Regions from separate parts of the Homo sapiens genome. Here region 2 is linked to region 1. A link means that fine-mapping ties the variant in region 1 to the expression of a gene that starts in the linked region. Tissue or cell type: whole blood. Region 1 holds a variant in brackets; the other region holds the start of a gene. All regions are shown on one strand. Distances are between the middles of the regions.

What was found.
Region 2: NDUFAF5 starts here. The variant in region 1 is fine-mapped to the expression of NDUFAF5 in whole blood (TOPMed, PIP above 0.99).

The regions. Positions count from the first base shown.
Region 1 is chr20:13,716,419-13,731,670 of GRCh38, reverse strand. It overlaps ESF1 (ESF1 nucleolar pre-rRNA processing protein), which reads left to right. Exons shown (of 14, transcript NM_001276380.2): 11 at 3,206-3,293; 12 at 12,687-12,763; 13 at 14,157-14,303. Among named protein-coding and RNA genes, the nearest start is that of ESF1, 61 kb to the left of the region's middle. The variant A/G (reference allele first, on the strand shown) is at 7,274.
Region 2 is chr20:13,777,475-13,792,395 of GRCh38, reverse strand. It overlaps NDUFAF5 (NADH:ubiquinone oxidoreductase complex assembly factor 5), which reads right to left and starts at 7,368. Exons shown (of 11, transcript NM_024120.5): 1 at 7,106-7,368; 2 at 5,044-5,084; 3 at 3,744-3,807. The coding sequence starts at 7,327. ESF1 (ESF1 nucleolar pre-rRNA processing protein) reads left to right here and starts at 7,477. Exons shown (of 14, transcript NM_001276380.2): 1 at 7,477-7,516; 2 at 9,213-9,892. The coding sequence starts at 9,256. RefSeq lists a silencer at 3,907-4,046 and enhancers at 6,458-7,147, 7,143-7,432.

The DNA of each region.
Region 1 (15,252 bases):
TGAAAATAATATATATGTAACACCACGTGGGGTAAGAGCCCTGCTCCCATTGATGTGCTAACTAACTCTCTTCTTCCCTAGAACTCCTTTTCAAACTCAGTAGGCAGTAAAATATCTTTTTTTTTTTTTTTTTTTTTTTGAGACCGAGTCTCGCTCTGTCGCCCAGGCTGGAGTCCAGTGGCCTGATCTCGGCTCACTGCAAGCTCCACCTCCCGGGTTCACACCATTCTCCTGCCTCAGCCTCCCGAGTAGCTGGGACTACAGGCGCCCGCCACCACACCCGGCTAATTTTGTTGTATTTTTAGTAGAGGCGGGGTTTCACCATGTTAGCCAGGATAGTCTCAATCTCCTGACCTCATGATCCTCCCGCCTCGGCCTCCCAAAGTGAGTAAAATATCTTATAAATGAAATAACTCCACAAGTGTTAAGCTATCAGTTTATTGGAGATGTCTCAAGTGGGCCCTCATGGGGTCAATAAAGTAGTCATTCTGAGAATTGTAGCAGCTATTCAGTTTGATTTTCATTTGCTGGGAGCTTCGAGTTTGTGCTTTTACTTTTTCCATTCATTTGGGCTAAGTCTGGACTCGTTGGTCAGCAGCATTCAAAATACATTGTTGAGTGTCCAGGGTGTTCTAGACCCTACAGTACTCAGTACCGGCCTTGACTCCAACAGATCCTTTCCAACTCCACAGGTTCTTTGTATATAGAAGAGTTTCAAGAATTTTCTTCAAGTTAAAAATATTTTTGCCCATTTGTTCCTCAGTGGTTTCAATTTTGATACTGAAAAATTATTACTGAAGAAATGAATACCTGATATATGCCGTGTTATCTAGTATTTTGATCTAGCTGTTGTTGAGATCTATAAAGCAGTTAAAGAAATGTGTTGAGTAGGTACATAGCAAATATTCTTTGTTAAAAGTATGTTACTGCTGAATCCATAAAATAGTTTGGTAAAAAAAAAAAAAAATTCTTAGAAGCGCTTGTTCTGGCTGGGTGCGGTGGCTCATGCTTGTAAACCCAGTACTTTGGGAGGCCGAGGCGGGCGGATCACAAGGTCAGGAGATCAAGACCATCCTGGCTAACACAGTGAAACCCCGTCTCTACTGAAAATACAAAAAAATTAGCTGGGCGTGGTGGCGGGCACCTGTGGTCCCAGCTACTTGGGAGGCTGAGACAGGAGAATGGCATGAATCCGGGAGGTGGAGCGTGCAGTGAGCCGAGATCGTGCCATTGCACTCCAGCCTGGGCAACAGAGTGAGACTCCGTCTCAAAAAAAAAAAAAAAAGCACTTGTTCTTGGCCAGGCGTGTTGGTTCACGCCTGTAATCCCAGCACTTTGGGAGGCTGAGGCAGGCGGATCACCTAAAGTTAGGAGTTCAAGACCAGCCTGCCCAACATGGTGAAACCCCATCTCTACTAAAAATACAAAAAATTAGCCAGGTGTGGTGGCAGGCGCCTGTAATCCCAGCTACTTGGGAGGCTGAGGTAGGCGAATCGCTTGAACCTGGGAGTCAGAGGTTGCAGTGAACTGAGGTCACGCCACTGCAAGCCAGCCTGGGCAACAAGAGCAAAACTCTTGTCTCAAAAAAAAAAGCCAGAAGCACTTGTTCTTAAAAGGACATTAATGTCAAAATAAATATTCTTTAGGGCTTTAGTGATTCTTTTTGCATGCAGGATGTTTAACAATAATGGCATTCTAAATATTTTTGTTTAAATGACTTGAGATGTTTTAGATTGCTAGAGATAAATTCAGTCTGGTTAGCCTGATCTTAGTTCACATGTGTTCTATTTATTGTATAGATTTGATTGCTTTATTTAAATTTGCTAATTTAGTAAAAAGTCTGTTCAAATTAGATTAGGAAAAATTTAACCAACAGACTTACTTAAAAATAGCCTGACAGTTTTTAGGGGTGGCTTATAGATAAAACAAGATAATTGTTAAAATTGGGCGATGAGAACAGAGGGTTCATTACATTGTCCTACTTTTGTGTATGTTTTAGATTTTCATAATAAAAATTCTTTTCTTTAACCAACAAATAAATTGTTGTAACTAATAATTTAAGAGATAATTCACAGTGCACTACTTCAAGTAATTCAGTCACTATCATTTTTCAGTTTTATGAGAGAAAATGCCACCTCCCATCACTGATCACCCATCTAAAAGTATTCTTCTCCTTCAGATCTTCTCCTTCAAATGTCTGCATCACTTTGTCCCTCCTAACCCTTCCTATCTTGAATTATTTTTATTTATGTATTTGTCTATTTATGTGTTTATGTGTCTGATTTCCTTTAATAGATGGTAAAATTTTTGAGGGCAGAAACCATGTATCTGATAACTTCCATTTCTCCCAAAAGGCCTACATGGTTTCCTGCATTTATTAAGTATTCTATATTTTTTGTTTGTTTGTTTGTTTTGAGACGGAGTCTCGCTCTGTCGCCAGACTGGAGTGCAGTTGCGCCATCTTGGCTCACTGCAACCTCCGTCTCCTGGGTTCAAGCGATTCTCCTGCCTCGCCTGCCAAGTAGCTGGGATTAGAGGTGCCCACCACCATGCCTGGCTAACTTTTGTATTTTTAGTAGAGATGGGGTTTCACCCTGTTGGCCAGGCTGGTCTCAAACTCCTGATCTCAAGTGATCTGCTCACCTCAGCTTCTCAAAGTGCTGGGATTACAGACATGAGTCACTGCACCCAGCCTCTATAATTATTTGTTGAACAAACAGAATAACTTAGGTGGGAGTTGTTTTATAAACTGGTCCATTTAAAAACTGGTTTACTTTTTTTTTCTTTTAATTATTTTTTTTTTTGAGATGGAGTCTCGCTCTGTTGCTCAGGCTGGAGTGCAGTGGCACGATCTCGGCTCACCACAACCTCTTCCTCCTGGGTTCAAGTGATTCTCCTGCCTCAGCCTCACGAGGAGCTGGGACTACAGGCATGCACCACCATGCCCAGCGAATTTTTTTGTATTTTTAGAAGAAATGGGGTTTCACTGTGTTGGCCAGGCTGGTCTCAAACTCCTGACCTCGTGATCCACCCGCCTTGGCCTCCCAAAGTGCTCAGATTACAGGCGTGAGCCACCACGCTTGGCCACTGATTTACTTTTAGATTGAACTACTTGGTTTAAAAGAAATGCATAGTTTTTCTTGGTATACATTTATTATAATTCTTGTAATAATGAAATTTTGTATTTTTATATTCAACTTTTAAGGCTCTTGCTGAAGAGGCCAGTGAAGAGGAACTTCCCTCTGATGTTGATTTGAATGACCCATACTTTGCTGAAGAAGTTAAACAAATAGGTAAGCCAGCTCATATCTGTAGTTTTCAACTGGAATCTAAAGAAAAAGGTGAGGTACATGGAAGCAATATAAACTAATCATTCTTTTAAAATTGCTAGTATTTGTGTAGCTCCCTTAGTGACATAAGCAAGTCTGTCCTGTGGCATACAGTCATTAATCTGATTGGGAAGGGTCAACTTGTCCCTTCTACATACAAGGGATAATTTTAATATAGGAGACTTTTGATAATGTGGTTAATAGTTTACTGGGGATTCCTTTCTGGGAAATATCCTTAGTGCCAGTCAGATCGACTCTATAAAAGAATGAGAGGAAATAGAAAGAGGAATAAATATTTTCTTGTGTACTTTCACTGATTTTTAATAGCGTATCCATTCTAGGTCCCTCTCAGCAAAGTCTATCAAGAATTAAAAGTATGAAACAAATTTGTTTTTATGTGCATGTTGATATGTGTATAATTTTTTTAAATTTATGCATGAAATTTCATATAAAAGCTTTTTCTGCTGAAACATACAAAAGCATCTATGTTTCATTTTATCCCTTTTGTACTCATTATGCTTAATTATAGCTAGAAAGCCAGCTTTCCTTACTCCTCTTTTTCCTTGAATCCCTAAATTATCTGGTATCTGATTTCCTATATCCAGGGAGCCTTGTTTCCACCTCATATGCACTACTCATTCTTTCTTTCCTCCATTATGTGGAGGAAATGCGTATGTGTAAATGTGTTTGGTAAGGTTCAGGCCATACTTGGTAAGTCAGTACAGAAATCACTGTAAGGATTTACCATTTGTTCTCATGCATTTTGCCTTCCCCGATCATTATACCACACACAAGAACCCCAAAAGGCTTGCTCCTGGAGCAACTCCACGCTGGCATTGTAAAGAGAAGGAGTTTATGAAGTTTCCCTGTTTTTTTCCCTTGTGACTAGTGGGCCAGAATAGTTCTCAACAGGAAAGTCAGAATTGCTCAAAATTACTTCCTGATTGTTACAGCTTTTTAGTACTGACATTTTATTGATGAGAAGGAGATTAAGATAAATAAAGTCTATTATAGAATGTGAGATTCTTGGGAATTGGACAGAGAAGTGGAAACTTAGCATATTCTGCTTTTTATCATACCTGAGTGGTCATTTCTAGAAGATGATGGATTTTAGCCTTATCCTCTGGTTTCAGGAAACCAACTTTATAATGGAGAAATGCTAAGCATTATAGTTTCCTTGTTCTCTATCCAAAATGTTTCCTTTGGCATGTGAAGTCTGGTCAAATTGCAGAACTCAGAATAGGATTCAAAGAATAAGTTAAATGGTTTGATGGCTTGGGGTAGCCAGTTTTTTGGAATCAACACATTTAAATTGAGAGTAAGCTTTCTGTAAAGTTATTATCAGAAGTTCCAAAGAAAAAAGGTATAGATAAAATTTGCTTGCTTATAATTTACTTTTGATTTCAGAGTGTTCCCAGAGGGTAATTGTTTCTATCTGGGCTTTTCTGTTTTTGTGTGTGTGTTTTGCAGTGGGTTTTGTTTTGTTTTGTTTTGTTTTGTTTTGTTTTGAAAAAGCAAAACAGCAAGGCCAGAATTTTTTACATAAAATTTAGGACAAAAAGCTAGTGTCTTGCCATGTTTGTTTATTCATTCTGTAATAACTGTTTTGATTGCCTACCAGGTGCTGAGCTCTCTGCTAGGCTAGAGATACAGTAGTGATAATACAAACAGGATTGCATCCCTCATGGAGTCTGGTTTAAAGAAAGACATGTTAGACAGATAAATAGTATGAGGGTATGGTAAATGTTTTCAAGGAAAGAAATAGAAGATATAACTGGATAGAAGTAGGAGATATGGGAGTTTACATTGGGTAGGCAAAGAAGGCTTCTCTGAGATGATGGCATTAGAGCTGAGACCTGTGGAATGAGGAGTCAGGCATGAAGAGCTGGGGGAAGAGCATTGCAAATGAGGGGAGAGTGGGTAGAAAGACTCCAAGGTGAGAATGCACTGTGTGGTGTTAAGAATTGAAAGACATCAGTGTGGCTGGAGCATTGTCGGAGAGGGAATTGGTATGAGGACAGGCTGGAGACTCAGTGGAAACTACCCCTGTAGGGCTTTGTTGTCCTGACAACAAATTTAGATTTTACTTTACTGATAGTGGAAAGCCCAAACAGTCTTTAAGCAAAGATGAGACATAATCTGGTATAGATTAACATATTACTCTGGTGCCTGTGAAGAGAACAGTTTGAGGACTGGTGAGGGCTGGAAGACCAGACTTTTGCCGAGCTCTAGACCAAAGATAATGGTTGTTTACCTGGCATGCCGCTCGTGGAATTGGATGGAGAAGAGAATGGAACTCTAGATATACTTTGGAAGTATACTTGCTAAATCAGGAAGAAATTTAGCATAACTTCTGTTTTTGGTTTGAGTCTATGGAAGAATGTTCTTCCATTTACTGAGGAAGAAATGTGGAAACAATAAGTTTGAGTGGGAAGCAAAGTAAATACGTCCATTTGTGGTATAATCACTTTGAGATGTCAATTAGATATACAAATGGAGGTGTTTGGTTGATATTGAGATATAAGTCTGAGAGATGAGCAGAGAAATCAGAGTACAAATATAGAGTTAAGGATCAGTAGCATGTAAATAGTACTTCAAACCATGGCAGTGCGAGTAGAGAGCAGTGATAAGAGAAGAGGATGCAGGATGGGCCCTAAGGTCAGGTGAAGTCCACATGAGGCACTGTTAATCTGTCATACTGGAGGAAGTGCTACCTGAAAGGATGGGAAAAGCTTAAGAAGCTGAGAAGCGGCGGCTGGGAAATAGGAGGAACAGTATTAATGTAGTGGCTCACAGACACTTGGTGAGGTGGTAGAGGTTTCAGTAGATTAGTGTGGGTTAAAGTTTGAGGTGAAAGGTAAGGAAGTAGAGACCAAGAATGTAGATCTTTTTTCAGAAGTTTCACTGTGAAGGGGAGCAAAGACGTGGAGCAGTACCTGAATGTAGGTAAGGAGAAGGTATTTTTTTAAAGATATGAGCTTTTAGGGCATGTTTTCTTTCCCTTGGGATTGTTCCAACAGAAAAGAAGTTACTAAGATACAGAAAATGGGGGAAATAAAAGTAAATACAAATGCAGATAAATTTGTATATTTGGTGGCAGAAGGATGAGGGATTTACCTGATTGGTTTATGGATTTATACTGTTTGTTCATTCACTTGCAGAAGCACAGATAATCTGCATGAGCAGATAGGGTAGGGACGTAGAAACAGGTCACTGGAGGGGGCAGGGTGCAGGAGGTTACTGCCTAAGGCGGTTGATTCAATTAATTGTCAATTTTAAGGAGAGTGTTCAGGTCTGGATGGCTGAAAATGGAGAAAGATGGGGCGTATAAATTTGAAGGCCAGGCCAGATACAAAACCATAGAACATGTGGCAAGAGCAGCGGTATGGGAGGCCTAGGCAGAGAAAGAGAGAACCAGCTGAGCCACAAAAGGAGCATGTCCCTTTTAAATCATGCTGGACATGGCTTTTCAAAGGCACATTACAAAGCTGTGTGCCCCCATTCATGTACGTGGTTATTCAGTCAACAATTATTGAGTGTCAGAATCACCCAGTCCTCCCATATGACTTTCAGCATGTTACAAAATATTTAAATATATGAGAATGATACAGTTTTCCCATACTTTACATTTTAATCTGACTTCCTATGGTATAACTGGACTTTTAAAATATGTGTTAGATATATATCATGTATATGCTCAAATAGATGGATTTAATGAGAAGTTTTTACTCAATTCTGAACCTTTTCCTCCCCAGCAAAAACTAAATTTGTGCTTAACAGTATCCAGAAGACATAAGGAAGAATATATTGAATGTTAACATTTTGTACTCATGATCCAGGAGGATGGTTTTAAGGATAGGTGGAAGCATGCTTATAACCTCAGGGAAATGGATTCCCATAGGGAGTCAGGAAGAAGTTGGAAGTTTTTTGTGTGCCTTCCAGAT[A/G]TAAGGATCTGTAGTAGGTACTCTTAAAGAGAGTTGGACTTTGGTTCAAAATTTACCAGTTTGTAATTTTTATTTTATTTTTATTTTATTTATTTATTTTTTTGAGACGGAGTCTCACTGTGTCGCCCAGGCTGGAGTGCAGTGGCGTAGTATCTGCTCACCACAGCCTCTGCCTCCTGGGTTCAAGCGATTCTCCTGCCTCAGCCTCCCAAGTAGCTGGGACTACAGGTGTGTGCCACTGTGCCCAGCTAATTTTTGTATTTTTAGTAGAGACAGGGTTTCACCATGTTGGCCAGGCTGGTCTTGAACTCCTGACTTCAGGTGATCCGCGCGCCTCGGCCTCCCAGAAGTGCTGGGATTACAGGCGTGAGCCACCACACCCAGCCAGTTTGTAATTTTTAAAATGTAGAAATAAAATAACTCAGATGACCTACATTGGTATATTAATTTATTACTACAGTGTTGCCTTCATTATTAGTTTGTCAAAATAATTTTAGATTTTAGTACCTGGTGGAAGTAAAATATAGTCATTATCTAAGGATATAGACCTTGCTTTTCAAAAATATTTAAGATATAATGAATTTGGCACACTAGTGTTTTCAGTGTACAGTTCAAGTTCTGTAGTTAAACAGGACAAAAACATTGTAAACCAGATGACTTGGGTACATTTATAACATTTTTGCTCTAGGCAATCCCATAGAGCTAAACTTATGTGCCTTCAAAATGTGGAGGAAATGAGTTCATTGATGCCAGACCTGGCGTTTGGCTCAGATTAGGTGCCAGGGTGAATGTTAGAGATCTTTTATAATTTTTTCTTCTATCTTTTATAATTTTTTCTTTGATTTCCTTCTAAATTGCAAACTTGGTGTCAAATGAGAGTTTTAAAAATATCATCTAGGATGAGCACATTAATGAGCTGAAAATGAAATGAAATATTAGAAAAATCTGCTAATTTTCCAGTGGTAGCTGGTAGAATCTGAGTCCTAGTGGGCTTCCCTTTATTTTTTGTAATTTTACAACATTGTAAAGCAGCACCAGAATGTGGTAGCCTAGAGGGAGATTAACCCTAGAGGGAGATTATCCTTAACAGACTGCATCTGATTATGGGCAAGTGATGCAGGAACTTGGTACAAAAGAGTAAATCACTAGGGCGCTTACCACTCCCATCTGGTCAGTACTGAGACCACATCCATCTGCCCTCCAGTGAACTTTCTTAGCTTCTCTCATATGAATTGCTCAACTAAACCCTCTGGAGGAAGTTTATTATGGGAACAAGTCTCTGACATTATAAGTAATGGGAAATGAAATTTCCTTTACAGATGAATTTTATTTTTACACACTATCTTTTTCCATGGATGTATTCTGTTACATTTTTTGCCTAAAAGGATTCTAGCCTCAGTAAGGATTGGTTAGATTTATTTAACTGTAAAACTCTAATATCTGACTCGGAGTCTCTGTTAGTATTGACTTAATAGAATCAATCCATATGTATTTTTTGCAGCAGTCCCAGGAGATGTAGTTTCTTTTTTTTTTCTTCTTTTTTTGACAGCATTTTGCTCTGTCACTCAGGGTGGAGTGCACAGTGGTGCTATTATGGCTCACTGCAGCCTCGAACTCTCCTGGGTTCAAGTGATCCTCTTGCCCCAGCCTCCCAAGTAGCTGGGACTGCAGGCATACACCACCATGCCTGGCTAATTTAAAAAAAAAAAATGTGGAGCTGGGGTCTTGCTTTGTTGCTCAGGCTGGTCTCAAACTCCTGGCTTCAAGCAATCTTCCTCCTTCAGCCTTCCAAAGTGCTGGGATTATAGGTGTGAGCTACCACACCCAGCTAGAGATGTGGTTCCTTACTTGACAAAAGATTGACTGAAAAATAAAGACAATATTTTAGAACACAAACTTTCATTTCCCTAGTACTGTTCATCTAACTTAAGTCTGAAATTTTTCCAGGGAGGAAAAAATGTTTTTTAAAAAAATATAGATGTGATCTCTTAATATTTGATCTTATTAACAGTGCAGAAATCATCTGTATGCATTGTTTATCTTTTCACTAAACAATTCAGTCTAACATCATAGTAAATTCTTTGTTAGCAAAGAAATTTTCTTCATGCTAAAACCGGATATCATGTTTAGCCCTATCTTGGGGATTTTTTTTTCTTTCTCCCTTATTACAGTCCTCCTTTCAAGTTTATTTTTAAGACTCTTCACCAGGTTGTTATAAAATCTGAAATAGTTTATTGTGGGCTTTTTGAAATTATTTTCCACAGCTGTATGTGAAGATCTTTATCTGCTTTAAATATTAATTATATACAGTCTAATTTTCTCCCTGCTACAGAATAATATTTTGCATATGTCATTTGTCCATTCATTTCAAAAGGAGCTCTTGGCTTGAGAGCATAGGAGCAGTGGTAAATTTAGGGAATGGGGGGTTCATACCCTAAGCAAGTGGAACCTTGATGATATTTATATGTGTAAGGACATACACATACATTAAGACAGAGAAAGATTATACTCTTAAGATTCGTATATTATTCCCTGAAAAAAATTTCAGATAGGACCAGTGATGAGGAGCATTTTCTCTAGGGAGAAGGGCTGCATACAATAAATATTTCTTCTTGGAAGTGCAAAACAAATGGCTTGGTAGCACTGATAGGCAAGCCTGGCAGCACTTTTATGCTGGCATGTTCTCTTGGCTGGGCATGTCTACTGGACAGGTGTGCAAGAGTATTCGCAGGGACTTAATACACACAGAGGAGTTTCTAAAGCCTCTTTTGACTTTAGGTTTTGCTTATCATGTTACCCCATTAGCTGCAATTCTTCAACCATCTTGACCATTCCCTTCTCCTGCCACACCCTTCTTCAGGTGTTCTCACATATCACCTCCCTCGCTTCATCCAGGTCATTGTTTGTGTGTCACCTTCTTGAAGAGGCCTTCCTTAACTACCCTAACAAAACCAGCCCCCTCATTCAGTCTCCAACCCTTCTGTCCTGCTTTGCCTCTGTCTTTCCCAACGTGAAGGTATACTACATGAGAGACGATTTTAACCTCTTGTTCACGGCTTGTGTCACCAGCACCTGGAGCTGTGATCGCAACATAATAAGTGCTCAGTTAACATTTGTGAGATAGGCGAAATAATTTCCTTCTGTTTATTGACCATTTGGTTTTGTCTGTGAATTCTCTTTGCTCTGTGTTAATATTTTCATTTACATGAAATCTTTATAAGTGAAAGATATTAGTATTATAATAGAAGCAGTCATTTCTTTTCTTTTTTTTTATCGAGACAGAGTCTCGCTCTGTTGCCCAGGCTGGAGTGCAGTGGCACAATCTCTGCTCACTGCAACCTCTGCCTCCCAGATTCAAGCAATTCTCCCGCCTCAGCCTCCCTAGTAGCTGGGACTACAGGTGCTGGCCACCACGCTTGGCTAATTTTTTTGTATTATTAATAGAGACAGAGTTTCACCATGTTGGCCATGCTGGTCTCAAACTCCTGACCTCAGGTGATCCACCCACCTCGGCCTCCCGAAGTGCTGGGATTACAGGTGTGAGCCACTGCGCCCAGCCGTTTCTTGTTTTTAATTATGAAAATTTATACATTGAGAAAAATTGAGAGAATAATACAGTGAACAGCACCTGTGTTTGGCAGTTGTTAACATTTTGCCATTTTACTTTTGTATGCATATACTTTTATGGTATATCATAAAAATGTATTTATACAAGATGTTACTATATAATAGACATATTTAATAGTAGTCTTTTTAGTTCACTATAGTCTAGAAGATACCATATACACTTCCCCCTCCCATAACATTTGCCTTTCAAGAACCCAGGCTAGTGATCTTTTGGAATGTCTTATATTCTAGATGTATCTGTTCCTTGCCACTCGGTCCACTATATTTTCCATAAACTGGAAGTTAGACGAGTGGTTCCATTAGATTCATGTTGAATGGTTTTGGCAAGCATACTTCATAGGCAATGCTTATCTTTCATATTATATCACATCTAGGGGCATAGGATTTCATATTGTTCCAAAGATGACTTGCTGAGGGTGGTACAGTGCCCAGCGGGGGATTTTCTTAGGCTCTCTAGGTGGTCAAACAAAAGGCTTGAGTGGGTCACACTTGGCTCTCATGGGTAGTTAGCCCAGGAAACACAGCAGGGCAGTATTGGGTGTTTCTCTTCATCGAGTCTTCACGGCAGTTCACTCAGCAGTACAGCTTGGGTACAAGGAAAGGAGACACAGTGTACAGTAGTCACCCTGGGCGAGAAGTCTCATGTTCCAAATAGGAACTGAGAGCTTTTTAACAGCACCTAGACATAGCTTCCAGATCCCTGTTTTACCAGTTACAGGAGTCACGGTATCAAGGAAGCCCAAAGTTATAAGCATTTAGAGACCCCAATACATGTTATTTTCCAGTCAGGAACCACTTTACCTGGTGGTATTGCCTGGTAATAGAGCTAGAAAGTTCACTAAAGATCAGATTTGTCTTCAGAGAAGGAGAAAGCGTTTTTTAAAACTTATATTTACAGGTAGTGACTGTCAAATTATTATTATAAAGATAAGTTTTTTCATTTTGCAGATGAGAGTTTGATATATAGTGTTGAGTTTATATATTCAAATCACTTGGGGGTTTTTTCTTTGTCTCTTCCAGTATTCTTATGCTAAGAAAATATTTCTTCTATTTAAGATACAGTAGCTGTTCCCTTGTATTTTCTCATAGGGGTTCTTTGTTTTATTTTGTTTGATATTTAACTCTTAAATTCACCTGCGTTTTATTTTCTTATGTATTATGAGATAAGGCTTTAATTTGATCTTTTTTTCCAGAATGAAACAAATTGCTCAACAGCAGTTATTAAACAATCTTTTCTGTTTCTAATGATGATGCTATATTTTATTATATACTGTTTCATCATTTTTATTGTGTAGGAATTTTTTGGTTATTTTCACTTTTCAGTACACGTTAATACACTATGTCACTAGTACATGGAATCTATGTAATCTTTCTAAAGATTTCCTTGAATGGAATTTTTTATTTAGAATTTCATTAAATGTGTATACTACTTTTATTATGAATGGATGTTGAATGTTAATCAGTATTCTTATGTTTATGGACATGCTTATTCTGTATCTGTGGAAATGATCTATGGTTTTTCTTTTTTAATTGGTAATGTAAATTATACATTACTTTGAAAGAAATTCTTCCTTTGTAACATGCAGTCACTCCATGCAGAAGCATTGTATTTATTCCATTCATATACCCACAGTCTTCTTTCAGTAACGTGTTTTTTTCTTTTAGTTTCAACACATTTATTGTTAAGATTATTCCTAGATATCTTATATTTTTGTTCCTAGTATAAACAGAATGTTGCTGATAGTCCTGTAATTTTTACCACTCTTATGTTGGTTTGTTGTGCCAGGTATAAATAAAAAATCGGTAAAATCTGCAAAAGATGGCACATCTCCAGAAGAAGAAATTGAAATAGAAAGACAAAAGGTAAAATACGATTATTGTTACATGCTTAGTGGATAATTCATAGGTACAATTTAAATGAAGTTGTACATGTCACTAATTTTAAAAAACAACTTATTTTAGCAGTGGCATTTATAACTAAATTGTAAGAGACATAATTAAATATTTTAGCAGTGTAGTTTCTAAATACAGTGTTTTTTTTACCAAACATAATTTCTCCAAATTGTACAAAGTTAAAATTAACCTCAAATTCAAGGGTATTTATTTTCTTTTATAAATTAAGAGGGAATTATCTCACTTTTAAAAACACTTACTATACCTGAGGCAGAAAATACCCTTAAAACCTCAAAATAATATTGCCATAAGTTTTAATTCAATCTGAATCTGTCCTGGAATACAGTTTGTGGTTATGGTTTGTCAAATGCAAATTTCTGTTTTTCTTATTGTGAATATGTATATTTAACGTACAAAATTACATTCTTGGAAATGCAGTGAACCTTATGCTTCAGTGACCCCCTATGTCCAGAGTCACACGTAATTTTGGCACAGAGTCATATGTGATTTTGCTGAGGCAGGAATTGAAGGCAGCAGTGCCCCTAGGGCTGATGTTCATGTCACTGTCCAGAAGTGTGCCTGACTGGCCACATAAAGTTATCTAAAGAGCAACAAAGAAAATCAATTTTTATGGAAAATGTCTCTGAAAAGCCAGCTAAAAGTGCCAGTGACAAAAGGAAATTAAGGCAGTCTAAAGTGGTAATATAGGAAGATCCACAAAGGTCGAGAGCATACTCTGTATTTTTACTAGTGTACATGGTTATTTACTTGATTCTTGAGGGTTCTCGTTTAATCCCATGGCTGGTAGAAAATACCCGTTTAGTGTAAAAAGACATTTACTAGATTTCAGAAGCAGATCCTAAGGTCCTACCTTCATAGAAATGTATCAGTATTGAAACAGTAAAGGCCAAAAAAAAAAAAGCAAAAAAAAAACTTACTTGTTAAAAGTTACACATTTAGAAAGTATAATTTGCATCACAAAATAAACATTTGCTAGATTTAGCATCATTGCGCAAAAAGAACAAAGTGAAAATGAGAACTTTTTATTTGAGGGTAGTTGGGGACTCTTGTTCCTGCAGCCTACTAATGAGTCACACTAAGTGAAATGGGGCCTGGTTTTTAACTACAAGGTTTTACCTCTCCTGCTCTCAGTAATGTTGCTTCCAGAGATTCTACCTTATTGCTATACAAAGATCTCTTTGTTTTGGTAATCCACAGTCAGTTTACAGACAACAGGTGGTACCCCAGAGTTCTAGTGATTGAGTCTTCCTTTCTAGAAGAGATATCTTCTGCCCTATACTCCTTTTTGGGGGTGGAAAAAAAAGCACTGTTGTACATTTGAACTTTTTTTTGCTCTCTACAGGCTGAAATGGCTTTGCTTATGATGGATGAGGACGAGGACAGTAAGAAACACTTCAATTACAACAAGATTGTGGAGCACCAGAATCTGAGCAAAAAGAAGAAAAAGCAGCTCATGAAAAAGAAGGAATTAATAGAGGATGACTTTGAGGTAACCATAGACACCAGGCATAGCCTCTTAAAGCTGGAATTGAATCTAAAGTCAGCTCTGCAGATAGAAATTGAGCATAGTCAAAGTTACCCTTGAAAATGTCTTAGGGGCCCGGTGCAGTGGCTCACGCCTATAATCCCAACACTTTTTTGGAGGCCGAGGCATGAGGATCACTTGAGTCCAGGAGTTGGAGACCAGCCTGGGCAACATAGTGGGACCCTCATCTCTATGAAAAATAAAAAAAATTAGCTGGCTGGGCGTGGTGGCTCATGCCTGTAATCTCAGCACTTTGGGAGGCTGATGTGGGCAGATCACGAGGTCAGGAGGTCAAGACCATCCTGGCTAACACGGTGAAACCCCATCTCTACTAAAAATACAAAAAATTAGCCAGGCGTGGTGGCGGGCACCTGTAGTCACAGCTACTCAGGAGGCTGAGGCAGGAGAATGGCGTGAACCCAGGAGGCGGAGCTTGCAGTGAGCCGAGATCTCGCCACTGCACTCCAGCCCAGGTGACAGAGCAAGACTCTGTCTAAAAAAAAAAAAAAAAAAAAAAAAAAAAAAAATCCAGGTATAGTGGCGCACACCTGTAGTCCCAGCTACTCAGGAGGCTGAGGTGGGAGGATCGCTTGAGTCCAGGAGGTCAAGCCTGCAGTGAGCCATGATTGTGGCACTGCACTCCAGCCTGGGCAACAGAACAAGACCCTGTCTCAAAAAAAAAAAAAAAAGAAAAAAAAAGAAAATGTCTTCAGAAAGACTGATGGTGGAGCCAAAGGCTACTGTCTTTTAATCCAGCACAGCCAGTTCATCCTAGGGTGGATGAAATCATTGTTTCTTTGGTTGAGCACCAGGTGAAATAGTTGACTTGTATTTTGGTAGCCATATTGTACCAAAAATGTGTAGTTTTTAATGTTAGAATCACATGTAGTGATCCTCAGACCAGCAAAGGTAT
Region 2 (14,921 bases), 61 kb before region 1:
CAGCATTGTCAACAGCCTACTAGAAGCTTCTTCAGAAGCTTCTACTCTGGCTGCCCTTCTCTATTAGAGAAGCCAATCCTTTTTTACTTTACCCACACCCACTTCCCTGTCTGAAACTTGGAAAGATTTCATGCTACCAACATGATGTTGCTAAATATGGAGCTGGGAAGAGTGCTCAATAGCTCTCATGAGCCAGCTCCAGCACACTCCTGTGAGGGGTGAAGAATTAGATGGACAGGATTATCTATCCCTGTCTCTCACTTGAAAATTTGAACTAAGAGACTTCGAGATAATAGCAGAGGTCCCTGGAGTTGGAAGAACATTTAGACTTCAGGGTATAGGCAGTGGTGTGCTGGCTCTTGGTTGGGGACTGCTTTGTAGCATTTGCCAACTTCCATGGTATAAATATTCCCACCAGGGCTGATGTCAAGCTATCAATATGATGTCACAGAACAGAGGTTGGGAAGAGATGCTAACAATTGGCTCTCACAGGCTGGCCTAAGCTAGCTTCAGCTACCCTTGGGTGTAGCATATTCATATGGGGCCACACACACTGATGAACACTACTATGGATAGACTACAGGGAGTAAAAAGAATGAAGGCAACCAGACAGCATTCATGTAGTACCAGAGTGCATGCGAACAGGAGGAACATTGTTATGGTGTTTCAAAGTTCCCATCTCTTGTGAGGCCTGGCTCTATTTCTGGATCCCTGAGTTACATAAGAGCCTCTCTGTAACAAATGTCTCTGTGTTTAAACTGGCTTCAGCACATTTTTGCTTTCAACAATCAAAAGATACCTTACTAAGACACTTTCCATCTTACTATTCCTGGCATCTTTATTGGCTCTTCCTCTTTCTCCCAACCCTAAGTACAATTGCAGAAGGTTCTTTTCTATATTCTTGCCTCAGAGAGTTTACCTATTTCTACGGCTTCAATTGTCACTTCTGAAAGGGACTTCCAAATAAGAACTATAGCCTCCTTTGACAGGTTTACTTTGCCTCACTTAATCCCCTTACCAACCTTTTGAGATGGGTATTATTGATCATATTTTATAGAAACTGAGGTCTAGAGCAATTGATTGGCCCAAGGTCTGAGTATACACAGACAGTGGCAGAGCTGAAGTTTGAAGCCCTGACTTCAAGTCAATGCTCTTAACCTCAATATCCCAATTCCAGTTCCACATTTCCAACTACCTGCCAGCTATTTATACTACCATATTCCACTGCCATCTCAAACTCAACATATCTAAAACAGGAATGATCCCGTGCTCCTTGCCACATCACATCCCCTGAATTTTCCAGTCACAAAAGGTGTAACTTAAACTCTAAAGTTATCTTGCAATAGTCATTTAATAAATACTCATTGTGATTTAGGTACTAGGATTTAGTAGTGATCAAAAATGAGCAAATCCAGTAAGAGAAGAAAGACACCAAATAAACATACATCAGGAGCTTGTAAGTGCTATGGAAGCAAATAAAGCAACTAGTCGGCAGAAAGCAGGGGCACTATTTTCTAAAGCAGTCACGGGAGGAATCTTTGATGAAGTCAGCTGAGTAAAGATCTGACAGGTGAGCAACTAAGACACACAGATACCTTGGGGAAGAGCATAGAGCAAAGCTCTGGCCTGTTTGAGAGACTGCAAGGAGGCCAGGGTTGCTGAAAAGTTGGGAGTGAAAGGAAGAAGATGGGATCAGAGACATGATAAAAAAACAGAATCCTGAGGGTCTTATAGATTAGGACTCTGGATTACTACTAAACTAGATGACAAACTAACAGTTCTGGGCAGAGGACTGACAATGATTTGATTTGTGTTTTACGAGGATACTTTGCCATGACAACAGACTGTCAGGGACAAAGGTAAAGCAGGGAGACCAATAGGAGGCTACTGCAATAATCTAGGCAAGGGGCGATGATAGCTGAACAGCACGGTGATGGGGAAGGTGGCAAGAAGACATAAGAGTTTGGTTATATTTTGAAATGCAAATAAAAGCTGCTGACGGATTAGATGTGGGAGAGAAGGATATAAGAGGAATCAATAAAAATGTTTTTTGGCGTTGAGTTACTAAAAGAATAGATTTGCTCTGCCTACCATATCTGATCAGTCATCAAGTTCTGTTGATACTTCCAGGTCTCTCTCATACATCCCATCATTTATATGTGCTGGCTCTGCATGGGTGGCAGGCCTTTATTTCTCATGCCTGCAATGCCTTTAACACAGCCTTCTGATGGGTTTCTCTACCCTTTCTCTTCTTCAATCTTTCTCGAATGCCATCCCCAGATTAATCTTCCTTAAACATCACTATATCACACCCTACAGCATTCTACCTCTGTGCCTTTCCTCCTGCCATGCCCTGATTTCCAATGCTAGGAACCACCAACTCAAATTCTTTCAAATCCCAGGTCAGATTCTGTGCCCCCTGAGAATCCTTGACCACATGAACTCCTACTGATTTTTTCTTTTCCCCTAATTCCTGTTGCACTTTAATGACTGCACCATTTCTATGGCATTTACTATTACCAATAATAGTGTTTTAGGAGCCCCACCACTCCCTTCCTCACCCTGGCCCAAGTCTATGGTTTTATCTAAGCAGATTTTACGTAGAAATTCCACTTTATGAGGCTGGGCATGGTGGCTCACGCCTGTAATCCCAGCACTTTGGGAGGCCAAGGCGGACAGATCATGAGGTCAGGAGATCAAGACCATCCTGGCTAACACGGTGAAACCCCGTCTCTACTAAAAAATACAAAAAATTAGCCAGGCGTGGTGGCGGGCACCTGTAGACCCAGGTACTCGGGAGGCTGAGGCAGGAGAATGGCATGAACCTGGAAGGCAAAGCTTGCAGTGAGCTGAGATTGCACCACTGCACTCCAGCCTGGGCAACAGAGCGAGACTCTGTCTCAAAAAAAAAAAAAAGAAATTCCACTTTAAGGCTGGGCGCAGTAGCTCACGCCTGTCATCCCAGCGCTTTGGGATGCCGAGACAGGCGGATCACCTGAGGGCAGGAGTTCAAGACCGGCCTTGCCAACATGGTGAAACCCCATCTCTACCAAAAATACAAAAATTAGCAGGGCATAGTGGTGCACCCCCATAATCCCAGCTACTTGGGAGGCTGCGGCAGGAGAATCGTTCAAACCCGGGAGGCAGAGGTTGCAGTGAGCCGAGATCGTGCCACTGTACTCCAGCCTGGGCAACAGAGTGAGACTCCATCTCAGAAAAAAAAAGAAATTCCACTTTCATCTTTGTGTCCAGCACAATATCGTATAGATAGGAGCTAAAAGAATAAATTAATGTCTTCATGGTCTGAATTATAAAGTGCAAAATACAATGTTATAAGCATTAATAAAGCTACTTATATTTAATGATACAGAAAGATTTCTAATCAACTGATAAAATTAATATTTTTCTAGCTAAAAGTCACATTTTCTGTATGAATGCCAATCTGATTTTTATGGTAATTATAAAAAAATGTGAACAAAGAGAAATATATCTTCTATAGATTCAAATAAATTATCGGTAGAAACATAATATATAATGGATTCAGAGAAAAACCCTTTAAGAAAAAAATTCTAAAGAAGGGAGAAAACCACCATTGATTCTACCACTTAAAAAAAAAAACAAATTAACAATTCTGATATAATTAAAATCTAAATATGTTGCAAGCTAAACTGATTAGGAAAGTCTTTCTTTAAAATTAGCCAATGTTACTTTTCAAAGTAAATTAGGTCATTGAATAAATATACCTTATTCAAATATTGTGCAATGTAACCTCTTCCACAACCAAGATCCAAAGCAAGGGGGAAATTTCTAAAAAAAAAGACACAGAGGTTATGCTCTGTCCATAACACAGTCTATAAATTAAGAATTATTTTTTCTTAGGTAAAATCATTCCAGTAAACACAACTTCCAGAAGGTTACATCATCTGCCTTTTCAGCCTCACCTTACAAGCTGTATATACCAGAGCCTACAGTACAAGGCAAGTCTGTCTGCTAGCTATTCACAGGACCTTGTGATGAGCCAGCTTTCCACCAGGTGGCTCCATGATGTGGACTCGAAGAACAGATTTAATGAGGATATTTTAACTCAATAATACATCCAGATAAAGAATGCAAAGAAGCTAATGTAAATTAACTTGAAAATAACTGACATACTTATCAATAATTATCCCTATTTCTCAGACTTCTTGAAGCAGTGGAATACTTAGAAATCATCATGTGAAATACCATTAAGTATTAATGTTAAACTAAAAAATAAGAACTTAAGTAACAGTTAAACTTTTACTGAAAACGTACCAGGTTCAAAGTACTGTGCTAAGTGTCTGAAGCTAAGTAAGTCAAACCAAGTGCCTCAACTAACAAGGGGCAGTCAACACTTGAATTCGGTCAGTCTGAATCCTGAGCTGGAACTATTATCCTCCATGCCATGCTGTCTCCTCTAAATACACTATGTTATGCTACATTGGTACAGACATCTAATTGTAGGCCATAGGTTTAAAAAAAAAAACCTATAATAAGAAAACTTAAAATTTTATCTACTAAGAACATTCTTCCTGAAAAACTGGAACAAAAAGAGCCCCATTGCAATTTGTTTTTAAAAAGCTTTGTCAAAATTATAGTACATAGCTGGAGAATCCCTGGTGGTAGATAACCTTATTTACCTAATGCCCTATATCTTGATGATGAACACAGGCAATATGGCACAGTTAGGTACAGAGGCTTCGGATGTTAAAAATTCGCATGTTGTTAAGTATCTCCATTTTTGGAGCAATCTTTCTATTACTTGCTTTTGGCCAAATCAAGTGGATTCAGGCTTGGAGATAGATACGAGTTGTGCTTCCACACATTCTTTTCTTTTTTCAGGCAACAATGAAGAAAACATTTGCTCTCCAGACAAGAAAAAGGAGACTTACAGAGTGATTTAAATCACCAGTCTGAGTAAATTCTTCCAGGTTCTGCCATTTCAGATAGCAAGTTCTCAGCATTTAATCTCCTGAATTTCCACTCAAAAGTTGATGGTATTGTATTATGATCACCACCACTTACCTGGGTATGTCATATACACGGTCTGCGATCCGACTTCCAACCTGAAGGATTACACGAGGCGTAGGTTAACGGGGAAGTAACACTCTTTTTCCAGTATTCAACAATCCACAAGTTACTTATGTTTTAAAATAAGTACTTCCCTTTATCCCCTTTTCAATTTCACCACAGGAACTTTCTTCTCAAACCACCAGGAAACAAAATTGAGGCAAATTATTTCAGAAGTCAATTTCATGAAATCCAGACTAAATATTCTTAAAAATATACATATACACACACACACACACACATATATATATGTGGCCTTTACATTCCATGTGACATAAGATCACAAGGATGAAAAGCAAAAGGAACACAACAGGCACATTACTGTCCACGGATATTAGCATGAGGTACACAAAGTGAAAAATTAGTTAGTTGGGGTTTATTGTAGATGAGTATGTAAGTGGTCACTTAAGAAAAACTCTATTATTTGATGACTAACAAATTTTGTGGAACTCATAAATGAACAACTTTTCTGAGTGACATTCGCAAGTTAGAAAAAGCCAAATCTGAGGAAAGTGCACCTCCCCTGCTCCAATCCCATCCCAATTTAAGAGTCATAAGGTAAGCACCACCTTTTGCTGGCCTAGCTTCATCTGGTAGCAATAAAGACGTGGGAGTCTAGTATTCCCCACATTCCACTCATTCCCTCATAAACACCCCAGAGTTGCTCTTAGGACTTAAAAGTTCCAAACACAGATGTACCTGCTTTTTGAGAGAAGGGCAAGGGAGAAGGGAGCGTAGATGTTTTTCCCAGGAGTCCACCTTGTACGTCATTCCTAATATGAACACCCTATGTTTATTATAAAAAGAACTCTCATATACTTTATCTTATTTGTTCTAGTCTCACAAATTGGCGAGGCCTCAATCAAGTTGTAGTCCAGGTGCTTTCTTTGGAGGGAAAGGGCTATGAGCGCACATCTTCTAAGTACACGACATCAGCAGTGTAGTACGTGCACCATGCCTTACAAGTGAGACACAAAAAATTTATTGGTAGTAAACTTCCTATAATAGACATTACCAGCCTAAGACTTCCTGAGAAAGACACCCTGTCAATCATCTGATCAGACCTGTACTTGCACAGAGCTCTGCTCAAGCTATGAGTTCAATAACTGTTTGTTGCATTATACTTGACTCCAACTTTGTTCCACTCCTGAATAAAAATTTACTGAGGCCTGAACTTGAGAATGCGTGTCCTGAAAGTAGAAACCCTCAGTCTCTGGCTCACCTGGGCAGGGAGAAAGGTTTCTCAAACGAGCCAAGACAAATCAGAAATCTTAATTTGATCTTCCTAAAACATAAGTCAGATCACTCCACTGATTAAAACAAGAGCTTCACATTCCCCTAGAGCAGTGCTGACCAAAAATCATGAGAGCCACATATGTAATTTCAAATTTTCTAGTAGCCACATAAGAAAAAAAGTAAAAACGAGAGAAATTTTAATTGAAAAATTTAAATTTATATTTAATATATTTCATGTGACCCAATATATCAAAAATAATCACTGCAACATGTAATCAATATAAAAGCTCTTAATGAGCTATTTTACATCCTTTTTTCATACTAAGTCACTATACTCGTGTGTATTTTACAACACATCTCAATTGGACTAGTCACCTTTCAAGTGTTCAACAGCCACATGTGTGGCCGGCAGTTACCATACTGGCTGGACAGTGCAGATACAGAAGAAAACCCCAAGTCCCTATCCTGCAAGGCCCTGATGATTTGGGTCCTCCTAACCTTCTCTCCCACTCTCTCCCTCTCCGGAGCTTCACTGGAGGCCTCTATAAGGTCCTTTCAGCCTCAAGGACGTTGCCGAAATGAATGCATGAATGAATGAAAGCATGTTACAAATATCCGAGGCCAGGCCTTGCGTGATTACAGTAGAGGCCGAAAGAGGCAGGGCTGCTGGTCAAGGTCAGACGGCTAGGTGGGGTGAGCTCGGGGCCTAGCCGGAACTAGCGGAGAGGAAAACAAGCCTCCGCGTCGCCCGCCCCGCCGCCCCGCCGCCCCGCGGGCTCACCTCCTCCTTCAGGTAGTCAAATTTGGTCGGCTCGGGCTGCCGGGCTGCCCAGTTCTTCTGTTTCCTTTTCAAATCCCGGTCGAAAATATTCAGGGTTCTGGGCGAGGTGCTACCGCGGGGAGAGACACCAGAGGTGACTTCCCTACGGCCAAGATTCTCCGCTGGGACCCTCGCCGCCCAAGGTCGCCGACATAAGCGCCAGAGCCCTGCCGGCCGCAGCATCTCCAGCTGCGACCCCAATTGCCGGCGCTTTTTGTGCGCATGCGCCAGCGCGGCTTTTGTGTCTACTCCAAAGATCTTCTCGAGGGAACGTGCAAGTAGTTTGGCCTAGTTCGCTTGCCATTACGGCGGAGCGTCACGCGGAGGATTGTGGGTGTGAGCCCCACGTGAGGCTTGGTAGGACTGCGGACGGTGAGTGGGGATGGACTGGAGTTGAAGAGCTCGAGATGAAGGGCTTGAGGGCGTGTGTGTGTGTGGCGCGGGGAAAAAACTAGTCTCTAACAGGATCTCTTTCGGATCTGCGAGGGGTTTTGCCCCTTCCTCCTGAGCCTTTTTCGGTCTCATTCTTCAGTCTTCATCGATCCTTTTCAGGGTCGCTTCTCGAATCAGTCTGTTAGCTGCCCCCCTGCGGTACAGGAGGTGGAAAGGAGACCCTAGTTCAGGGGCCAGCCCTGTGTTCTCCGAATTAGAGAGCGGGCAGAAGGGGAGGGTGGGCTACGGGGATGCGGGCGCGTGTCGGGAGTGAGGTCCGGTCGCCTTCCCCTCTCTCGGATTATCTGACATATAATGAGTGCTTTCCTTCTAAACATTTACAATACATGCAGTACTTCTCCTGGTTGAGGTGGTACCTACCTCGTAAGATTGCTCAGAGAGTTAAGTGCTGTAATACATCGAAAAATGTGTAAATGCACCAGCGATAGCTTCCTTTTTTTTCCTAGTTAGTGTAATTAAAAGGACTTGATTTTTAAATAAGAAATATTGCCCTTTTAATCATTTTGGGGGGGGGTTGCTTAATAATCAACGACTTTTGGCTCTTTGCAAAATTCCCATCCAGAGATGCTAAACCATTGGAGACTTTTCACAAGGGAACAATATTAATTTATACACACATATGTATATGTTCTAGTATGTTTTGGGGGAATGAGCTCACTTGGGCCTTCATCACTGGTAGAATCAGATATTATAGAAAGAAGTGATATTTATTAACTGGTGTGAGACTTTACCTGGAGACTCAAATTTACTTTTTATTTTTAAACTTTTTATTACTTTTGAAGGATGATCGAATTTAAAAAGGAAACTTTCTTAGCTAAACCTGAGTTGATTTTGGTCTGTTTAGTTAGAATGCTAGTCTTACAGAACTAAAGGCTGTTTGTTGGCAGTAGCCGGAGATAAGGAGTAAGCAGAATGAGACCAGAATGTGAAGAAACAAATGAGGCCAACGGAGGCTAGGGAATCTTTCTTTCTTACTTTTTTTTGGTAGACAGGGTCTCACTCTGTTGCCCCAGCTGGTGTGCTGTAGTGCCGTTAGGCTCACTCTAGCCAAGACCTCCCGGGTGGAAGTGATCCTCTTGCCTTAGCCTCCAAAGTAGCTGGGACTACAGGCGCGCGCCACCATGCCGGGCTCATTTTTGTATTTCTTGTGGGGATTCACCATGTTACCCAGGCTGGTCCTGAACTCCTGGGCTCAAGTGATCCGCCCGCCTTGGCCTCCGAAAGTGCTGGTGAGCCACCGCACTCGGCCTAGGGAATCTTAACTACATTTGCCTTCAATTAGTAACACATACTGGTATACAAATAGAAATTCTAAGTGAGAGCAATGGATGAATAAACATTTGTTCCCCTCCATAAAGCCCTGGGATTCTGCTTTGTCTACCTTAAGTTTATTTCTCTAAATGATCTGTCATGGAAAGAGGATATTTTGGTATGTTTCTGCTTTTTTGCATGTGACCCAGAATACGTTGGAGAGATGAAATTAGACTTGTTACCTCTATTTTATGTACACTTAACTTAGAATATATTAACTTAGAATATATTGTGAATGTGTTTTAAAACATTTAATTATTGTACTAACCATTATTACCATTAAAACATTTGTTTTATTTTTCAGTATTTGTTTTCTTCAAGCATTTGGTCGAGATTAAGAATTAAAAATGTCATCCAAACAAGAAATAATGAGTGACCAGCGGTTTAGACGGGTTGCAAAGGACCCGAGATTTTGGGAAATGCCAGAAAAGGATCGAAAAGTCAAAATTGACAAGAGATTTCGAGCCATGTTTCATGACAAGAAGTTCAAGTTGAACTATGCCGTGGATAAAAGAGGGCGCCCCATTAGCCATAGCACTACAGAGGATTTGAAGCGTTTTTACGACCTTTCAGATTCTGATTCCAATCTCTCTGGTGAAGATAGCAAAGCATTGAGTCAAAAGAAAATAAAGAAGAAAAAAACCCAGACTAAAAAAGAAATCGATTCAAAAAATCTAGTTGAGAAAAAGAAAGAAACCAAGAAGGCTAATCACAAGGGTTCTGAAAATAAAACTGATTTAGATAATTCTATAGGAATTAAAAAAATGAAAACCTCATGTAAATTTAAGATAGATTCAAACATAAGTCCGAAGAAGGATAGCAAAGAATTTACACAAAAAAATAAGAAAGAGAAAAAAAACATTGTTCAACATACTACAGACTCTTCTCTCGAAGAAAAACAAAGGACATTAGACTCAGGCACCTCTGAAATTGTGAAATCTCCCAGAATCGAGTGTTCTAAGACAAGAAGAGAAATGCAATCAGGTAGGTTGGAAAAAATTAGAGATTCTTGGGTGTTACATTATTTATTTTTATACTGATCTTTCAAAAATGTAAACACATTAATAAGTATTTTCATAGTATTATGGAATGGTCAAATGCTTATCTGGAAATACAAAGCTATAAAAGAAATATGCAGTGATTATTAATTTTTGATGTGGTGCTAGAAGACAGACATGAAAATTTGAATCTTGAAGTTAAACAGTGATTTTGATTAGTGGTGAGCCCTAATGAGAACTATATTCTCTAACCAGATAAAGTGTTATATGTCATCACATGATAAGAAGAGATGTGTCTAAAGAGGGTAAGTAGGCCGGACATGGTGGCTCACGCCTGTAATCCCAGCACTTTGGCAGGCCAAGGCGGGCAGATCACTTGAGGTCAGGAGTTCAAGACCAGCCTGGCCAACATGGTGAAACCCCATCTCTACTAAAAATAAAAAAAAATAGCCAGGCATGGTGGCGCACACCTGTAGTCCCAGCTATTCGGGAGGCTGAGGCAGGAGAATTGCTTGAACCTGGGAGGTGGAGGTTGCAATAAGCTGAGATTGCACCACTGCACTCCAGACTGGCTGACAGAGCGAGACTCTGTCTCAAAAGTAAAATAAAATAAATAGGGTAAGTAGGACTCCGTCTCAAAAATAAAATAAGAGGGTAAGTAGAGTTGAGTACTCATTCATTAATTTGTTCAGTTGCTTTGCCACTAGTATGTGGCAGGCAGAATATGAGTAAGGCGTCGTCACCCATCTCAGGGCTGTCGCTAGCTTATATGATGCCTTTATGCAAATTAGAAAAAGGCATGCTCTCTGGACACACAGAGCTCCCAGGGGTCACACTTTGGTGAAGAGATGGCGCCTTTGAAGCAACAGATTTTTTGCCCCTGAGCAGACACAGCCCCCTCCAGAGTGCATGGCTTGGTGAGTGTAGGATGGCCTTGATTTTAGCCCTTCTTGTCCTTTTATAAATGCCCCTGTGCGGATAACAGCCTGCTAAACTTTGTGCAGTGGCCCCTGTCTAAAGCAACATTGTCTAGTAGAAATACATAATTTTGGATTTTCTAGTAACCACATTAAAAAGTAAGATGAAACAGGTAAAATTATTTTAAATAATATATTTTATGTAACCCAATATATCAAAATTATTTCAATATGTAATCAATATAAAAGTCAATGTATATTTTACATCCCATTTTCTACTCATTTCATACTAATACTATTTTCATATTAATGTCAAGTTAGACAAAACGCATTTCAAGTGCTCCGTTACCACATGTGACTACTGGCTACCATATTGGACAATATAGATCTAAAGTAGAAGAAAGTCAGAACCATAATACAAAATGCAATAATAGTAAGTGCCGTAAAAGATGTTTAGCAGAAAGCCATGGAAATCTGGAGGAAGAAGTCACTCAAGATGTGGTAATCAGAAAAATTCATAGGGGACGCACTACTTTGGGGTGTGGAAAAATTTAAGTTTGAGGACCAGAGTGTGCTACATGGAAAGAACTTTTTGAGCAAAGATGTGATTGGGCATGTTCAGAAGAGGTCAGTAGTCCCGTTTGATTAGATAATAAGGTCTTGAAGGGCCAAAATGAGTAGCAGCGAGAAATGATTGTTTGGAACTAGGTGAGAGACAGCTGGCTCTAGTTTGCATTACGTGTTTACTAATTAAAATTTTTTGTCACCTCCAGCAGCAAGCAATTTTGAGTGTTGATGTTGCTGATAGTTGAAGATGTAACTGAAAACCAGTAGTAGTTCACATGAGCCAGACCTGTGATTACAGGATCCAAGGAGGGGTCTTGATAGGCCGAGAGGTCTTGATAGGCCAAGAGGTCTTGATAGCCCAAGAGTTCTTGATAGGCCAAGAGGTTTTGATAGGCCAAGAGGTCTTGATAAGCAGAGATCACACTGTGAGGGTAGAAGGTATCAGGCAGTGGAGTGAATTCTGGATAGCAAGGACTAGGGAGTCAGTGGTGGTATCCCATTTTACATTTGTAGTGGAACCAGGCAGCAGACCTCTTGAGGTGTGGGAAGAAAGGATAGGAATCCGGTTACTAAAATTGAAGAATAAGATTGGAGTGGGACCGGCAGCAAAGTTGATTTGACACTGAATTAGTGAGGTAAGTTAGTCTAGCATCCACTTCATTTGGGGCACTGAATTAATATAACATAGCTATATAATCCTTTAGATTGATTTTACAGACTTTTTTACATATCTTTTCTCATTTAATTTTCTTAGTTACCTTGAGCAATAAGACTGTATCAGCGAACAAGATTAAAGTGACTTATGTAAGGACATGCAGACCTGGAACTGCAACTCAAGTCTTCTGACTCCTTCTACCCCACCACATTGCTTGCAGTAATTTTGTTGGTTCCACAGTCTAGGAAAGGCATTACTCATAAATAAGGATTACACGGCTCCATATATAATCTTCTGTTCATTATCCATTCATCAGTTATTACAGCAATTACTGTGTGCAAGGGCCTTTTTAAGTGCTGTGAAGTAAAGGTGATGTGAGGACTTGCAGTGTGATATTTGTCATCATGAAATGTTCATGCCCAGCACTTGCACTCCTCAGAATCTATTTTACATAAATAATTGGATGTGTGCAAAGAATGTGCATTGCAGCATTATTTTTAAAATAAAACGGTAACTGGCTGGGCACAGTGGCTCACCTTTATAATCCCAGCACTTTGGGAGACCGAGGCGGGTGGATTGCTTGAGGTCAGGAGTTTGAGACCAGCCTAGCCAACATGGCAAAACCCGGTCTCTACTAAAAATACAAAAATTAGCTGGGCATAGTGGTGCACACCTGTAATCCCAGCTACTTGGGAGGCTGAGGCACGAGAATCACTTGAACCCAGGAGGTAGAGGTTGCAGTGAGCCAAGATCGTGCCACTGCACTCCAGCCTGGGCAACAGAGCAAGACCTTGTCTCAAAAAATGAAAATAGAAATTAAAATGGTAACAAATCATTAAGAGATTAATTAAATATATGCAAACATCTGTGATCTATGAAGTTTTAAAAATAGGTTCCAAAATAACGATATGACCAGTTATTTTAAACAAATTAGTATTTAAATTAAAGAAAAGAAATTTAGGGATATGGTTGTATACTAAAATAACCAGTTATCTTTGAATGAAAAATTACTGCTAGTCACCTTTGTTTTATTTATTAACCATATTTTCCTAACTTTTTTTGGTTTGTAATGATCATTCATTATGTTTATAATTGGGGGAAAATGGTAAAGCAGTTTTTTTGGTTTTTTTTTGTTTTTTGTTTGAAGTAGCTGGATAAGTAGTAATGTTTACAGTCACTACTAGAGCAATACTGTCTAGGAATAGAGACATTTATATTTGTGTAACCCCACATTATCTTGCACAAGGCTGTGTACATTGTGGGCTCTAAGCAGATACTTTTTGGGGTTTTTTATTTTTATTTTTGGAGACAGGGTCTCGCTCTGCTGCCCAGGCTGGAGTGCAGTGGTGCAATCACAGCTCACTGCAGCCGCAACTTCCTGGGCCCAGGTGATTCTCCCACCTCAGCCTTCCGAGTCACTGGGACCACAGGTGCACCCCACCATGCCTAGCTAATTTTTGTATTTTTGTAGAGACAAAGAGTTTTGCCATGTTGCCCAGGCTTGTCTCAAACTCCTGGGCTCAAGATCCTCCCATCTTGGCCTCCTAATATGATGGGATTACAGGCGTGAGCAGCTGTGCTCGGCTGCAGATACTTATTGAATGAATAAATACTCTGAATGCAGTTGATATTGTTAAAAACATTGAAATGGAAGACCTCTTTAAGTCTCTTATGCAACACTTTATTATTATATAACCCAAAGTGTGGTATGTGTACCATTGTCATAAGTGAGAAGATTTTTGATGATACTCAAACTTCTAAAATATTAATAGTTATGTACTGTGTCAACATCTTAGAAAACAATGTAATTACCCTATCACTTCTGTGACTTTAGGAATATTGTTTAGAGCAAAACTAACTTTTAAAAAATTCAATTTAATAAAAAAATGATATTCAAAAATCATGAAAATGGTATAATGACTGACAGTTGAGAAATATTGCAATACTAGATAGACTGGGTCTGTAAGATGTTATTTCTAAGCTTGTTGCTTAAAAGTAAATTCTGCTTACCTCATAGTAACTTTCAATGTTGTGTTTTTCAGATCTCATATATAGAACCTGTGACAATGCTTTCATTTTGGCGCTTTTCACTTCTATTGGCTAGTTATTTTTATTAATCCCTGCTTCGTTGTGGTGGTAACATAAAAGCCCATTTCCTGCTTTTCCTTCTAACAAGATGCCTTTTCATTCAGTTAGTCTCAAGTCAAGTTGTATCTTTGTGAAGCCTTTTTATAAATACCTCTCTGCAGGCAAATTTAGATGTCTCTCACTGTATGGTGATTGAGAACATAGATTTATAAATCAGTAAATGGTTACCTTTTATTTATGAATCCATCAAGAGCATGAGATCGTGTTACAAATCTTCTCTCTTTTCCCTTATCCTAGCTCAATTCTTTGTATGTAGTAGATACTCAGTAAATATTTGGTCAGTGAATAACTATTATAAGATTATAGGACCAAGAGAAAATTAGTTCCAATTTCATTCTAAATCTTGAACTTTTAAATTTGCTTTTAATTTTCCAAACTTAGAGCCTGTAAGCAGAAAATAAGCTCCAACTTAAAGATGAGTAAAACACGTAAGATATATCTACACACCAAGTAGATAGAAGCCTGTGATTGCTTTAGAAGTAGGAAATGAGCCCTTTCAGAGTTGTGAGGACTAAAATTTCCATCTTAAGCAAAAACAGTCTTTCAATCTTGGTGTATTGCTAATCATGACAGTTGATTACAAAGTTCAAGACCTGGCAGAAAAAGTATAAATATTATTTCTCTGTCTTTATAGGTGATCTCATCCACATCACAGCTTCTGTTGTCAACTGCGTATGAATGAGTCACTGATCTCCAACCCAGACTTCTCTGAGCTGTACACTCTTATT